Linked DNA regions of Homo sapiens: regions 1, 2 and 4 are each reported to be linked to region 3. Evidence: microRNA targets listed by miRTarBase, many of them from high-throughput screens and not tested one by one. Region 3 holds a microRNA gene; each other region holds the end of a gene's coding sequence.

What was found. Region 3 holds the annotated microRNA hsa-miR-6752-3p (UCCCUGCCCCCAUACUCCCAG, at 2,302-2,322, shown strand). A microRNA usually pairs through its seed, bases 2 to 8, with sites in the 3' UTR of a target mRNA and lowers its output. Matches are read on the target gene's strand: a 7mer-m8 pairs with bases 2 to 8, a 7mer-A1 pairs with bases 2 to 7 and ends in A, and an 8mer does both.
Region 1: miRTarBase lists TBC1D24 as a target of hsa-miR-6752-3p. Seed matches in the 3' UTR shown: 7mer-m8 at 3,279-3,285, 7mer-A1 at 1,313-1,319 and 7mer-m8 at 589-595.
Region 2: miRTarBase lists TMEM81 as a target of hsa-miR-6752-3p. The part of its 3' UTR that is shown has no 7-base or 8-base seed match.
Region 4: the mRNA of SLCO4C1 is a reported target of hsa-miR-6752-3p. Seed matches in the 3' UTR shown: 7mer-A1 at 1,244-1,250.

Annotation. Positions count from the first base shown.
Region 1 is chr16:2,500,341-2,504,340 of GRCh38, reverse strand. It overlaps TBC1D24 (TBC1 domain family member 24), which reads right to left. Exons shown (of 8, transcript NM_001199107.2): 7 at 3,851-4,000; 8 at 1-3,537. The coding sequence ends at 3,383. Among named protein-coding and RNA genes, the nearest start is that of ATP6V0C, 12 kb to the left of the region's middle. RefSeq lists an enhancer at 3,430-4,000.
Region 2 is chr1:205,079,796-205,083,795 of GRCh38, forward strand. It overlaps TMEM81 (transmembrane protein 81), which reads right to left. Exons shown (of 1, transcript NM_203376.2): 1 at 3,334-4,000. The coding sequence ends at 3,758. Among named protein-coding and RNA genes, the nearest start is that of TMEM81, 2.7 kb to the right of the region's middle.
Region 3 is chr11:67,487,994-67,492,164 of GRCh38, forward strand. It overlaps MIR6752 (microRNA 6752), which reads left to right and starts at 2,252; the gene lies at 2,252-2,322. It overlaps AIP (AHR interacting HSP90 co-chaperone), which reads left to right. Exons shown (of 6, transcript NM_003977.4): 3 at 1,274-1,462; 4 at 2,045-2,221; 5 at 2,323-2,464; 6 at 2,795-3,110. The coding sequence ends at 3,000. It overlaps PITPNM1 (phosphatidylinositol transfer protein membrane associated 1), which reads right to left. Exons shown (of 24, transcript NM_004910.3): 24 at 3,775-4,171. The coding sequence ends at 4,040.
Region 4 is chr5:102,233,520-102,237,519 of GRCh38, forward strand. It overlaps SLCO4C1 (solute carrier organic anion transporter family member 4C1), which reads right to left. Exons shown (of 13, transcript NM_180991.5): 13 at 467-3,499. The coding sequence ends at 3,339. Among named protein-coding and RNA genes, the nearest start is that of SLCO4C1, 61 kb to the right of the region's middle.

The DNA of each region.
Region 1 (4,000 bases), not on the chromosome of region 3:
TTGGGGGAAGGTGAGGGTACATGGAAACCCTGTACCGTCTCTGCAACTCTTCTGCAAATCAAAAATTACTTCAAAATAAAAAGGTACACAACTAAATTACTAAATATAAACTACTCAAGGAGACTGCAAAGGCTTTATGGGTTCAGAAAGTGGATAAGAGAAATATGAAGGCCTCTGAAATCTTCAAAACGTTTTAAAACAAATTCCACTGAAAAACTCAAAAAATGAAGTATGCGGCTTACAAAAATAGAAAAATTAAAATACTTTAGTTCATTAAAACTCTGAAAAAATTCAAGTACAAATGACTTACTCTCATAAGTTCTTTTGCTTAAACTGATTTTCTGAAGCCCCAAAGGCATATAATCTGCTTTAATGAATTCATTTAATAAACTATTTTAAATTAGGTGCAATTGTTGTTTTAAAAATAAATGTTAAACATTTATTCAGCACAAAGTGGTCTATTCAAAAAAATTAAAAAATAGGCTAGGCGCGGTGGCTCACGCCTGTAATCCCAGCACTTTGGGAGGCTGAGGGGGGGGTGGATCACGAGGTCAGGAGTTCAAGACCAGCCTGACCAACACAGTGAAACCCTGCCTCTACTAAAAATACAAAAAAAATTTAGCTGGGCGTGGTGGCGTATGCCTGTAATCCCAGCTACTCAGGAGGCTGAGGCAGGAGAATCGCTTGAACCCAGGAGGCGGAGGTTGCAGTGAGCCAAGATCATGCCACTGCACTCCAGCCTGGGTGACTCTGTCCCAAAAAAAAAAAAAATCAAAAAATAATTCTTTGAATGTTTCTAAAAACAAATGATAATTTATTATGCAGTTTCAACAAATGTTGGCTTTTTTTTTTTTTAAACAAAGAATGGCTACTTCATAGGCAGAGCAGCCACTTTTGGCTAATTTTTAACATCCAAAGCTAATAAATAATCAAGAAGAAATAGAGAACATTAACAAAATAAATTATGTTCTATTTGGGAATACCTAATATCAGATACTAACAAGTACAGTGATAAGAATAAAAAAGATAATAATCACACATACCTTCTAGGTTAGTAGAAAAGTTAGGAAAAGATATTAAATTTAAAGAAACAATATTTTGCATGCACACAAAAAACAAAGAACTTCGCTCATGATGTGGAAATCATGACCCAGCAGCAATCCGTCTTCCTGGTCCAGATCACTGGAAGGCCCGGGTGGGGCCCCCTGGGGGCAGCCACGCAGAACCTGCTGGACTTAACTCGCCAGAAAAATCACCACCCAGTTCAGGAAGTTTGCAGAGGGAAACCTACAAATGGTCCACGGATATGACTTCCCTGCTCCTGGAGGGCTCCCTCTGGAAGAGGCTTGCAGCATTCCAGTCATAGAATGTGGGTGAGCACTACAGCGGGCAGCCTCCCACACCTGCTTGGCTGTAGGCCCAGGAAGCCCCCGGAGGCCCCTCTGGCTGAAGAGATCAGACTCAGCTTGGAGCCCTGGAGTTGATGCAGCAAGACCATGTTTAATGAACACCAAAGCTGGCGGTACAGATGAGGGCCTCAGGGGCTCAGGCGGGGGCCTGGAGGGCTGCGGTGGGCTGAGATGAGTGGCGACTTCCCTCCCATACCTCTCCCCGTGAGAGGGATTCACCCCATCCCCCTGCGAGCCTCTCAACAGTCCTGTGAGGAGGACAGCAGGGCATGGGGACTGGCCCCATTTCACAGCTGGGGAAACTGAGTTCCAGACGGGTTTGTCAGCTTGCCCAAAGCCACACAGGGTTCCCGGTCCTTCCTCCTGCACCACTGTGCGCCCAGTCAGAGGCTACATGAGCAGATGGTCAGGGGAGGCTAAAGCCCCATGGGAGGAGCAGGCAATGGTGTGGGGATGGAAAGTGGCACGGTGCAGGGGACTCCAAGTGGCACTGGCTGGAGGCCAGCAGGGACGGGGGTGGGGGCAGGACTGCTGGTACCTGCCTCTGTGACCCAGGCTTCCATGGTCCCAGAACAGCCACTTGGGCCTCTGTGTCTCCCTTCTCCCCTCCGTGGTGACCAGACCCTCAAGACGAGTTGAAGGAGGTCATGGGGCATGGAGGGAGGTCACAAGGCAGGGGGCTGCCCCCTATAGTGCCCAGAGGCAAGGCCTCCCCTGGCACCTACCTGCGTCTGGCCAGCGCAGGGCTCAGGCAGGGCAGGGGCCCAGGGGCCCAAAGGCTGTAAGGTGAGAGGCTCACAGAAAACCCTGACACGTGGCCAGCCACAGCACCACAAGAGGGACAGAGGGAGGACATGCATCCATGCAAGGTGGCCAAGGAGGTGCTGTGTGGCCAGGGCCAGGGGAGGGCACGGGGCCTGGTGCAGAGAAGCAGTTGGGGCTGCACTGAGATGAGCATGCCACAAAGAGGGGCTTGGGCGTGACCCTGGGCCCCAGGTCATTGCAATGACAAAGAGGTGAAATGGGCAGCTGCAGAGGCTACAGGAGCTCAAGGAGGCCTGGGCTGGAAGGGAGGGGAGCTGAGAAGCCCCCTGGGTCCAGGCTTCTCTGGGCAGACCCCTGGAAATGGAGCTTGCTGGTCTGGGTCGGTCCCTGAGGGCCTCTCCCGGGGCTACCTCTTCAGATGGGAACACGCAGGGAGGCCCAGCAAAAGCTTCAGGCTCTGCAGAAACACAAGGACATGTGACATCCCCCTCCAGCTCCCACCCTCCCTGGGGGTGGAGCCCAGCACAAATCCCACCCTCCTCCTCCCACCCAGCAGCTCCCAAACGCAGCCCAGGGGAGCCTCAGAGGCAGCCAAGAAGGGTTAATGTGAGAGGTGGCCCAGGAGGCCTGGGGAGGGAACTGGGGCAAACGCCCAGGACAGGGGGTGGGGTCCGCCAGGGGGCAGGCCCAAGGGTGCCAGTCTGTTCTCGGGATCTACGCTGGGATTCAGTCGCCAGCCAGCCAGGCTGCAGGGCCCTGCTCAGGAGGGCGCGATGCTATGCGGCACCAGCAGGGGGCACCACAGGCCCACCCTTAGCTGCACGTTCCCACTGCCGTTGTACTCCCACCCCAGGGGCTCAGGCTGCCTAGAGAGGCTCAGGGGCAGCAAGACCCAGACACTCCCAAGGCCTTGGGCTATGGAAGCCTCCACGGAGGAGGAAGGTACTTCCTATGCCAGCTCTGGGTGGGGCTGGGGGCACAGCAGGCCCTCCAGCTCTGACCCAGATGCAGGTGGACTGGGGAAGCCCAGCCCAAACCCCAGGTAGAGGCAGCAGCAGGTCCAGGCAACGCCAGGCTTGGCCATGGGGTCCTGCCGTCCCCCAACCCTGCCTACCACATGGGGGTTTCATCTGCTCTCTGCTGCCCGAGGCGGCAGCCCAGCCTCGGCCCACCGCCCCACCACGGCTCAGTCACCGTGGCACAGGCCGTCACTGGGTGTCAGGGTCCTGGAAGCCCCAGGCCTCCACGGCAGCAATGAGGAAGTTCTCGGAGCAGAGGGGCTGGTTGTTGAAGGTGTCGCAGTGGCTTGTGCGGCCCCGGTTCAGGTCCCCATCGATGTAGAGCGCCTGGCCGCCTCCTCCCCCTGCAGGATGCTCAGGTCAGTGGCGGCCTGACTGCCCTATCAGCACTGACCCAGGCACCTCACCTGCTGTCCCAGCTGTCCTGCCCTGCACGGGCCTCTCTGAAACCGCACAGACCGTTGACCCTCCATAGCCCCCAGGACCAGCTGTCCAGGCTGGTCTCTCCCTTCCAGCCCCCTCCCACCCATCATGCCTGGTCCACCCTGACACCCAGGGCCTCTTCTCTGCCACCCCGGTCAGGGAGGGCTGGGTGCAGCAGCTTCAGCTGCCCGGACCCCACACCCTCATCCCAGAGCCCCGTCTGCTGGCGCTCACCGACGATGAGGCAGTCGCTGCCCCCCGCCATGAACATGGACTCGGTCTTGGAGGGCAGGTTGAAGTGGCGAGCGGCCAGGAAGGGCGAGAGGCGGTCAGCGGGGTCTGAGGAGGCGGAGTGGCTGAGTGGGGCGGTGGGCTCGGCAGCCA
Region 2 (4,000 bases), not on the chromosome of region 3:
CCTTAGCCATATATCAGAACCACCTAACAACCTTAAACAACAAAGATGCTCTGAACTCATGATATACATCTAGGACACTGAGACAGCCTAGGAGCAATGACTCCCCAGTAGCAATGAGCACACCCAACATGCAAACCTTGGTTTCTCAATGCTACTCCCCACACTAAGAGGAACCAGGGTTCCTTGGGGAAAGACCAGATTCAGGTTTGGGGCAAGGAGAGTCCAAATGTGAATCTGAGATACCGTGTTGTACTAGAAGCAAGAAAATGCTCAATGTCAAATAAAACCACAGCAAAAGGGCAAAAGAGCTTGCCTGAGGGGACTCCTACTGGCCAAAATTGGGGACAATTTGAACATCAAGATAATGATCATTTGTACACCAAACCCCCATGACATGCAATTTACCTATGCAACAATCCTGCACATGTACCCCTAAACCTAAAAAGTTAAAAAAAAGATAAAATGATAATGGATTATATATAGCTCACTGAATAAGAAGAATCTATTGAGACCTCAAAAATAAAGAGGGTAAAAAGAGTAAGCTCTTCTTTACAGAGAAATGCAGGCTAATATAGGTAAGATGAACATAAAGAATTGCCAGTTTGCAGTCCCCAACATGTAATGTTCAACAAGGCAAAAACAATGGATGCCAAAATATGTGAAGAGTTTTTGGAGAGCCATATAATCATAAAGTATTACCCCACAGACTATGAATTACAAAGGGGAAAATACACACACACACACACACACACACACACACACACACATTGGTGGTGAGATCTGGCCATCCACCACCTTAACCAAATGATCAAGCTTATTATCAATAGTGGGTCAACCTTGGCTGGGCGCGGTGGCTCACGCTTGTAATCCCAACATTTTGACAGGCCGAGGTGGGCGGATCACCTGAGGTCAAGAGTTTGAGACCAGCCTGGCCAACATGGTGAAACCCCATCTATAGGCGTGGTGGCACATGCCTATAGTCCCAGCTACTCAGGAGGCTGAGGCATCAGAATCACTTGAACCCGGGAGGCAGAGGTTACAGTGAGCCGAGATTGCACCACTGCACTCTAGTCTGGATGATACAGTAAGACTCCATCTCAAAAAACAAAAACATAAACAAAAACATGAGCCTTGTAATGTGGTGCAGTTAAGTACATATCTACATAGGGCTCTTGTCAAAAATGTTTAAGATTCATTCCTCATGAATCTACTCATGAGGAAATGGCAAATACAAATTATGGAATCTTATCTAAGACAACTGGAGTAAATTATTCAACGAAATCAATGTCATGAAAGACAAAGGAATGCAGGAGGTCTGTTGTAAAAGAAGATACTTAAGAGAAACATAACACATGAACTTCTATTTGATCCTGGATCAAAAATGAAATTAAAAAGCTGTTAAGATTTTGGATATTGAGAAGTGAATACAGGCTGAGTATCCCTTATCCAAAATGTTTGGGACCAGACATGTTCCAGATTTCAGACTTTTTCAGATTTTGGCATCTTTGCATTATACTTATAGGTTAAGCATCCCAAATCCAAGAAATCCGAAATCTAAGCTCTTCCAATAAGCATTTCCTTTGAGCACCATGTTGGTACTCAAAAAGTTTCAAGTTTTGGAGCATTACAGATTTCAGGTTTTCATACTTGGGATGCTCAACTTGTATAAACTATATAAGATTAAGAAATTGTTAAATTTTGGCCAGGTCCAGTGGTTCACACCTGTAATCCCAGCACTTTGGGAGGCCGAGGCAGGTGGATCATCTGAGGTCAGGAGTTTGACCAGGCTGGCCAACATGGCGAAACCCCGTCTCTACTAAAAATACAAAAAAATTAGCCAGGCATGGTGGCAGGCACCTGTAATCCCAGCTACTCAGGAGGCTGAGGCAGGAAAATCACTTGAACCTAGGAGGCAGAGGTTACAGTGAGCTGAGATCACACCATTGCACTCCAGCCTGGGCTACAAGAACAAAACTCCGTCTCAAAAAAAAAAAAGAAAAGAAAGAAATTGTTAATTTTTTGTTGTTGTTTTTGAGACAGAGTCTTGCACTGTCGCCCAGGCTGGAGTGCAGTGGCGCAATCTCAGCTCACTGCAAGCTCCGCCTCCTGGGTTCACACTATTCTCCTGCCTCAGCCTCCCGAGTAGCTGGGACTACAGGCGCCCGCTACCACACCAGGCTGATTTTTGGTACTTTCAGTAGAGACGGGGTTTCACCGTGTTAGCCGGGATGGTCTCGATCTCCTGACTTCGTGATCTGCCCGCCTCGTCCTCCCAAAGTGCTGGGATTACAGGCGTGAGCCACCGCGCCTGGCCAGAAATTGTTAATTTTCTTAGTGTGATAAAGATATTGTGGTTACAGAGAACATCCTTATTAGGAGATGCATACATGGTTTAAGAGTTAAGAGTTGCAATGTCTGTGACTAGCTTTCAAATGGTTTAACAAAATCAATCTATATTGAGAAAGATAATTGTGACAAAATGTTAATTCCTGGTGAATTTTGGTAAAGGTTCTATGCATGGTCACCAAACATTTCTTTCAGCTTTTCTATGGGTTTGAAATTTTTACAAGTTAAAAGTAAAATAAATAATAGAGATCCTTTGACCATAATTTAAACTGAATTAGCATTGTCAGGATTAGAGCTCAAGAACCTTTATTTTTCACAAGGTCATCCAGATGATTCTAACACACATCTAGAGAATCGCTGGTCTTTGGTTTCTGCTACCTCCTGTAGTCAGAGAAAAGTGAGAGGAAGAAATGTTGTAATTCTCTCAGTAGAATTAGCTCAGCTGGTGGCCAAGAGTCTTTCCCTGATGGTTCCACAAGCCAATTATCTCAGACACGGTCCGAATGGCCTCGGAGTCTTAAGACTGGATTTCCTATGGAGGAATCAAAGTACTAATCCTCCTTTGGGGGCCTTGGCTGCTGTAAGAAACCAATACTTGACCCTCCCAGGAATAGAAGCTTCAGGGCACTGAAAGAGCTAAAAGGACTGGAGTGGAGGCAAGCCAAGGTGCTGTCTGAATGGTAAGAGGAAACCTACCAGGTGAAGGATCTAGTGTTTTGCCAAGAAATTCAATTTAATACCAAACAGGGGATTTACCTGGGCAGAACAGGCAATTTGTTAATATTTAGTGACTGTTACACACCTGAGTTGGATGTCATTACTAACAACCCCTGCCATAGGCTTATGCACTGCACCCCCTGCCCCCAAAAGCAGACAATTGGTTTAATGTCTATTCTAAGAAACCTGAGGAAAATGAAGCCAGACTGATTATGGGACAATTTAAATAAATACAAGAAACTGAAGAGCAGAAAAAGGTCTCCATACAGCTACTGTGAATTACTTTTATTGAAAAAAAATGTTCACTAAAAAGGCTGAATACATCCCTCTACATGAATACACAGCTCAGAAGAGGGGAAATGGAGGTGGGGAGGCATCCAAGTCATAAAGGGTAGAAAATGAATGCAAGCTTCTTAGAACTCTTCCCAGGAACACAGGCAATGCTTGCAGTTTCCTGGGTACCCAATGGGCAGGGAAGATCAGGAAGAGATCCATGGGACATAAGGAAGTTAGGTTACTGCGCATAGCTCCCAGGAGATTGTCCCCTCCATTTCTCCCACTCATTCTTTTGGCTGTGGGAGTGTTCCCTCTAAGCTGATCCACTACCAGCAGCTGGAACACTCCCCTAAAAAGCTAGCTTGGCTTCCTGGGCAGCCAGTTCTTCAGGAGCAAGGCTGTTAAGTTCTTGAAGCTGTCACTGCTGCAGGCCCCCCCTTAGCGCACAGAGGACAATCCTCACCAACACGCCACCAACCACTCCAATGGCAATTCCTATTCCCAAGGCTGACGCCACCTTCTTTTTCCACTTTGGGTGGTGAGGCTTGGAGTAGCTGTCCAGATTAACTTCCAATCCCTCATCTATTAACTTCTGATCCTCAGTAAGTGACTGATGGAAATTCAGATTCACCAAGTTAGGAGGAAGGACCCTCAACCCAAA
Region 3 (4,171 bases):
CATAGCTTTTTGGGGGCTGGCCCCTGCCGTCTCACCCTCTTACTCAACCTCCCTGCTTTTCCTTTCCATTCCCCTTCTTAGCCAAGATCTTCCCTCTTCCTTCAAAGCTTATTCCTGGGTCACCACCTCTAGGAAGCCCTCCCTGACTGCTAGTGGTTGGCTCAACTCCCATGTTTGGGTCCTCCAACCCTCATGCCCTGCATGGCCAGGATCTGCTCTTCTGCCTTGTCCTAGGCTATTGCAGAGCAGGGATCTGGCCTGTTTACTTCTAGCTTTGGGATGCCCAGCGCGAGCCAGTCCAGAGCCAAGACTCAGGAAATGCCCGCTGATGGCAGCCCGGCAGTCAGCCCCTGTCCAGACAACAGGGCAGTGGGAGGAGTGGGGAGGACCCGGGTAGGAGGAATCTGGTTATCTGGTTCCCACCAGCCTAGCAGCTTTGCCAAGCAAGAGATTAGAGGCTAGGTCCCCTATGCCTGTCTCCCTGTGGGGTTTTTTTTTTTTTGACTAAGTCTCACTCTGTTGCCCAGGCTGGAGTGCAGTGGCGTGATCTTGGCTCACTGCAACCACCATCTCCTGGGTTCAGCTGATTCTCTGCCTTAGCTGCCTGAGTAGCTGGGATTACAGGCACCTGCCATCGTGCCCGGCTCATTTTTGTATTTTAGCAGAGACGCGGTTTCACCATGTTGGTCAGGCTGGTCTTGAACTCCTGACCTCAGGTGATCCGCCCGCCTTGGCCTCCCGAAGTGCTAGGATTACAGGCGTGAGCCACCACATCCGGCCTCCCTGAGGGTTTTGAAGTGGCTGGCCTGGGCCCAGCTCTGAGGTAGGCCCTCAGTGGGGTGTGGGTGGGGCAGAAGGAGGAGCTGCTGGGAACAGAATGTGGGGGGCCCCAGTTCTTTGCATAGTCCAGCAAAGGGCCTTATCCTCTGGAGGGAGAGGAGGTAAGAATTCTACTGGGCCTGTAAGGACCAGGGAGACAGGGGTTGATGGTAGGCATGTGTCTGTGGTGGGGGTGAGGAGGGGGTTAGGTGCTCTGTTTGGTGGCCAGAGAATGTGGCAGAAGCTGGGGCTTCACCAGGAGAGAGGGCTGAGCGACTGGAGGAGTCCTGAATTAAAAGCCTCCTGTGCTTAAACGGAGTAGGGTCCCAGTTGTCACTCTCTGGGCCTTGGTGTTTGTTCTCAGATGGTGGTGGGGAAGGGGGCTGGGCCTTGTGGACCCGGTGACCAGCCAGCCCACGGTGACAGAGCCCCCGGCGCCCTTGCCTTCCCGCAGCATGTGGTCCTGTACCCGCTGGTGGCCAAGAGTCTCCGCAACATCGCGGTGGGCAAGGACCCCCTGGAGGGCCAGCGGCACTGCTGCGGTGTTGCACAGATGCGTGAACACAGCTCCCTGGGCCATGCTGACCTGGACGCCCTGCAGCAGAACCCCCAGCCCCTCATCTTCCACATGGAGATGCTGAAGGTGAGGGGCCACCGCGCCTGGTCTCACCAGGCCCCCACTGCCCAGCCTCAGGGCGGCGCTGGCCTGTCCACCCAGGGGTGGTGGGATCCGCAGGTGGACTGCTGGGGGAGCGGACAGAGACAAGAAAACCTGTGCAGGACCCTTGGCAGTACCCTGGGTCTCCTTTCCTCCTCCTTCACATCTCAAATGTCACCTCCTCCAGGAAACCGGCCCTGCCCACCCGGTCTCCTCATTCTCTGTCTCGCAGCAGCTCATTTCCTTTATAGCCTCTGCCGCACCTTGAAGTCCCTTGGAATTCATGGATTTCCTTGTCCATTTAGGGAACCTGCCATGCAGCATGATCTCTGCGAGGGCAGGGCTTTTCACCGTCTTGTTCACTGTTCTATTCTTAGCACTTGGCACAGTGCTGGGCACACAGGAGATGTGACATCGATGTTTGATGCTTTTTGAGTGACAAGTAGCTCTGCTGCTGGTGTGTGATGTCTGGGGGCCCAGCCAGCCCAGATGTGGGTCAGGTCTGCTGCTGACGGACGCAGCTGTGGTGTCCCCGAGCCCCGCTGTGATATGCCCCATGCCCTGCAGGTGGAGAGCCCTGGCACGTACCAGCAGGACCCATGGGCCATGACAGACGAAGAGAAGGCAAAGGCAGTGCCACTTATCCACCAGGAGGGCAACCGGTTGTACCGCGAGGGGCATGTGAAGGAGGCTGCTGCCAAGTACTACGATGCCATTGCCTGCCTCAAGAACCTGCAGATGAAGGTACTGCCTGGAGGCTGAGGGGGAGGATGGATGGAGGGGGGTGTGGAGCCAGGGGGCCCAGGTCTACAGCTTCTCCCCGCTCCCTGCCCCCATACTCCCAGGAACAGCCTGGGTCCCCTGAATGGATCCAGCTGGACCAGCAGATCACGCCGCTGCTGCTCAACTACTGCCAGTGCAAGCTGGTGGTCGAGGAGTACTACGAGGTGCTGGACCACTGCTCTTCCATCCTCAACAAGTACGACGGTGAGCACCGGGCCCTGGGCTGCCGGGGGCTGCGAGTGGTCAGAGAGTGGCCTTTCTCCTGTCACTGCTGGGGTCAAGACCTAGCCTTTCACAACCCCCATTCTGAGCTCCCACGGGGGCCTGACTAAATGCCTCTACTCGGCAGGGCTGTGGGCCCCATTGTGCCAATGAAGCATGAATGGTGTATTGGGGGTGGGGTGGCATCCTCAGGTCAGGGAGGGCTCTCTCTCCCCTGTGGGCCCATGGTGCCAGGAGACATGAGGGCAGGCAGCTGGCCAGGATCCCCCCTCATGCCCTTGCATGCCCACTGCCCACTGGCCTCCCCTGCAGACAACGTCAAGGCCTACTTCAAGCGGGGCAAGGCCCACGCGGCCGTGTGGAATGCCCAGGAGGCCCAGGCTGACTTTGCCAAAGTGCTGGAGCTGGACCCAGCCCTGGCGCCTGTGGTGAGCCGAGAGCTGCGGGCCCTGGAGGCACGGATCCGGCAGAAGGACGAAGAGGACAAAGCCCGGTTCCGGGGGATCTTCTCCCATTGACAGGAGCACTTGGCCCTGCCTTACCTGCCAAGCCCACTGCTGCAGCTGCCAGCCCCCCTGCCCGTGCTGCGTCATGCTTCTGTGTATATAAAGGCCTTTATTTATCTCTCTCTGAGTCTGCTGAGCTGCTCCACTGGGAGAGCCGGGTCATCACCTGGCATTCCTGGTACTTGGGTGGCTGTTGGGAGGCAAAGAATCAGGGTTCAAATCCTAGCCCCTCCACCCACCAGCTCTGAGGCTCTGGTGTCCCTGTTAGAGAAATTACGATGAGCTCTTTCACCAAGGAAGTGTCTCTCGCTGGCCAGGGCTGGGGCGCCCCAGGAGCCCACAGTCTTAAGGGGGAGATGAAGTGGGTACAAGCTAGGTAGCTGGGCACCTGAGGGAGGTAGTCTCCTGGTGCTGCCCTCCCACTCCAGCCTCGGATCCCATGGTCTCCTGGCCTCGGTGTCTGGGGGCAGGGTTTCCATGAGAAGCTACGCTGGGGCTGAGGTGAGCCGGGTTGGGCTGGGGTGGGCTGACTGTCCAGAAAGAGGAGAGGGCCGAGCGCTTCGTGAGACCTTTTGAGGCCCAGGCCCCCATCCTGACCTGCCTGTGACATGGATGGCCCTGGGCGTGGGTTTCGTGCGACCTTTTGAGGCCCAGGCCCCCATCCTGACCCTGCCTGTGAGCTGGATGGCCCTGGGTGTGTGTTGGCCTCTCTGTGCACATCAGTGTCCCCTGTTGAACTGGAAACTGGGCTGGCTGCCCTGTGATGCCAGGCATGGGGTGAGTGGGTGGGGTGCAGGTGGCGTTTATTTTCATGGATTTATACACACTGGAAAAGCCTCTGCGCCCATGCCCACGCCCTCCTCCCTCCCCCCGGCGCTGGGTCCCCTCATATGAAAGGGAAGTAACACCGAGGAGCACACGGAGATATAGGGTGTGGGGCTGGGGGGGCCAGCGCTGGGGCCAAAAGTCTGGGTCCCCAGCCTCCCACACGCAGCCCCTCGGGCCCCTTGGGTGTGTCAATAAATAACCCAGGTCCAGGCTGGTGTGGGCCTCACTCCTCGCTGTCCAGCTTCAGGCTGATGCTCCGTGCTTTGCCCCGTGCCAGGGTGGTGGGTGGTGTTCCCGGGCCCTCACGCTCCGCCTGGCTGGGGCCCCTCGAGCGAAGCAGCTGGCTCTGTTTGCG
Region 4 (4,000 bases), not on the chromosome of region 3:
GCTGTAAAAGTTAGTGTTTATTGGACTTTACTGAAAAAAAAGCTGAAGGAGCCTGGGGGAAAAGAACATTACATTTCAAATTAACATCTAATATTATTTCCTTAAAATATTTTACTATTACAATAAACTGAGATAAATTAAACACATCCCACACTTTTTTATCAGATAGTTTACAAATAAACCATCTGTAAAATGTATCCTACTTATATAAATCTTATATATTAATCTGTCATATGTAGAAACTTGTGTAAGAGAATTTCCCTAATATATATTTCATAATACATGTGGTTTGTATTGAATTAAAAACATCTGTTGAGATACAAGAAATCACTGGATTAAATTATTAATACATTCACCAAGTTCAAAAGCATACTAATTTCCCTTTCCCATCCATAAAATATGCTTATGTTCACAGAGATAAGGCAAGTTTCAAACCTGTGTCATTTAATAAGCTCAAACACGACAATTTTGTATAAACATTCTGATTTAATAAATGGTATGAATATATATTTTGCATACTTTACAATAAAGAAAATTTTGAAAGAAAATGGATCTAAAACTTTGTTTCCCTCCAATTTACATAGTAAAGTCAACTGCATACAGTTCTTTCCATGTGTAAGTTTTACATTTGTATTTTCTACAATTAAGTAAATCTAAATGTTAAATTTTAACACATATATCCAATTATGTACACAATTACAATGTCAATTTATAAGTCAAGCTTACTTAACAATCATAAATTACAAAAAACGCACTATGAATAATTTTGTTCTAGAAGTATCACATCAACTCATATGATCTAGGTGAACCCAAAAGTAAAAAATAATGATTATAAATTATGGTAGTGTCTGTAAAACCCTGTTATAAAGGAGGTATTCTTTTAAAATATGTACCTTATATATAAAAGCTCCTGACTCCTTTTAAGGACCAAAATTATTTTCAGTCTAACCATTTTCATTAAAGCGCTTATTTAAAAAGTATCACCTTATAAAACTGAGTATATAAAATACAATGCAGCCCTTGATAGCTAAGAATCTTTATAAACGCCAATGATTTAGTGACCTGTTTATCAAACTATTTCTATGGATGGGTTGATTTTTTTTCTTCCTCTAAATTAAGTGGCCCTAGACTAATATATTTGTTCAGTTATTCTGTTTTCTTCCTTACTGCCATTTCACATCTCCATCAGTGAGTTCCTCAGGATTTGCCTTTATGTTACAACTATGAAAGTCTTCAATCCAATTCCCTGCTTCCACACAAAGGACAAAGAAAGCCTAAACTTTCCTTTTCCTTTTTTCTGGGCTCCAATAGGAAGCAGCATTTACAACGTGTCTGGCTTGGTGGGAGGAAGATTGTCAATTGAGGTATCATGTGTGTTCACCTGCCTCTCTTGCCCTATTTCTTTGGTTGCTATAAATTTCCTGCTTCTCAAATATCTGGATTTTTGGCTACCTATTTGGCTTCCGTCTTTGGTGTTTATATCTGTCTGGTTTTAGCAGGTCTCTCTGATTCCTGACCCACAGCTCCTCTCCTTCTCTAATATTCAAGTATGCTGCTTCCCTAACTCCTCATTCCTTCTCCTTGAATTTCACTTTACAATTGCGCTAGGTTCTAACATCGTTGGCCATAGATTACCACAAAACATAATTTCTTAAATTCTGCAAATTTCTAATGTTTCTAATCTTGGTTTCCTACAAGATCTAACACTAAGCTTGTGTTATCCTGATTACAGTGTATATAAAACAATGCTTGTGGAAAATTAACCTAGGAGAAAGCTTATAGGGGAAACCTGATGATGAATTTTATTAAATTAATAACCCTTATAACAATTTCAAATGTAATACTATCTGGATTTGAACTTCAATACTTTTCCTAAGTAAAATTCTTAACCATGGTAGAAGTTATGTTTGTTGATGTTCACTCATCTATACCCTCCATATTCTCAGCAAAGTTGGCATAAATCTGACCTGAATAAACAGGGTTATAACATTATCAGGCTTGTAAAATACTTTATCAAATCAATGCATCAGTTAAAGCAGGGGTCCCCAGCCCTGGGCTGTGTGTGGCCTGTTAGGAATCGGGCCACACAGTTGGTGAGCTGAGAGGCAGGTGAGTGAGCATTACTGCCTGAGCTCCACCTCTTGTTAGATCAGTAGTGGCATTAGATTCTCATAGGAGTGCACACTCCATTGGGAACTGCACATGCAAGGGATCTAGGTTGCACTCTCCTTATGAGAATCTAACTAATGCCTGATGGTCTGAGGTGGAGCAGTTTCATCTCAAAACCATACCTTCTTCCCCCATGGAAAAATTGTCTTCCACAAAAATGGTCCCTGATGCAAAAAAGGTTGGGGACTGCTGAGTTAAAGGGTAGGGTTTAATATTCTAATTAAACAATAATAATAGATGACTACACTATGCAAGGCACTGTCTTAGGTGCTATGAGTAATGTGTTAAGTGGTTGGCTTTTCAAATAGGAAAAATTAAAGGTATATAAGTATTGATCAATAGTTTCATGTTTAGTTGGCATTTTTCTTTACTGACTGGTACTTTCCTCTGAAATATATGCAATTGAATAATATTATCACAGAATCATAAATGTGTTAAAAATTGTAATATCAACAAATTACCTCCTGGAATTCTTGAGTTAAAGTGAAAATATGTGTATACAATGCTGATGTTTCTGTATTCACTATATACTAAGACACAAGGATGATAACTAACATATTCTAATAGTTCAATAATTTGCTTGGAGAAAGGCCAGGCTAGTATACATAAATTTAAAAACAAATTACATGGTAAACCTGGTTTTAAATTCATAGGCTTTCAATAATAATTCCCGGAAATCATCACACAACTTTGATTAGTTTAAATTTTTATACCATAAATGTTCTAAGCTCAAAATATTGACAATGAAAATTAAAATTAAACAAGTTGTAATGGGGATAGAAACAACATTTTTTTTAAATGTAAATTTTTCTAATTGTGGGCCTTTTTTCTTGTTATTGCTTGAGGATTTCATACCTAGACAATGGGAATAGGAAATAAGTGTGTATGTGTGCGTGTGTGTGTGTGTGTGTGTGTTCGTGTGTGTGTGTGTGTGTGTGCTCGTGTGTGTGTGTGCTGTGTTTTGAGGCTTTACGTGGGCTTTGAAGGCACAGGTCTGTTTCTTGCATAAAACAAAAACTACATAAGTAAAAAAATACATTTGATTATAAAAACATCAATTTTGTAAATATGATTGTCCATATTGGATAGATAATCCTGCCATGGCAATGTGTGTTCTTAAAAATCGAGGTAAATTTTCCAGGTGTAAAACAGTCTTCTCTTTTCCCATTTCACCCTTCTTTTACTATTTTGTTGAGATCCTGTTCTGCTAAAACATTAGTCACAACTGCATTCTCTTTATGAAATGACACATCTGTGGCTGATGGAGGTGGTTTATACAAAAAGATTGCAAATCCATTGAAGAACATGGTGATAACTTTACAAGTAACACCTAAGTGAAAAAAAAAATTAATCATGTGCTTTTGTTTTTAATTATGATAAAAATTATCACTGAGAAAAATCTTCATGAATAGAACATTTTTAAAGAGAATAATTACATAACCATTATAGTTCTATGTTTAAAATTTTTGAAACATTAAGGGGAAAGAAAAAACATTTGTATACAATTCAAGTCACTAGTACTTATTTTCTTTCTAAGCTGTAATAGAGCACAATAATTAACTTATTCTTGGTTATGCTTGTGCATTCTTGTAAAATAAGTGTTGTATAGAACTAAATAGGAATTGGGCCACCATCTAGATTTGTTAACACAAGCCCATAATCCCAGTACTTTGGGAAGCTGAGAGAGGTGGATGTCTTGAGTCCAAGAGTTCGAGACCAGGCTGGGCACCATAGGAAACCCTGTCTCTACCAAAAAAAAAAAGTGCAAAATATATTCAGGTATGATGGATGGTACAGCCTGCAGTCCCAGCTACTTGGGATGCTGACGTGA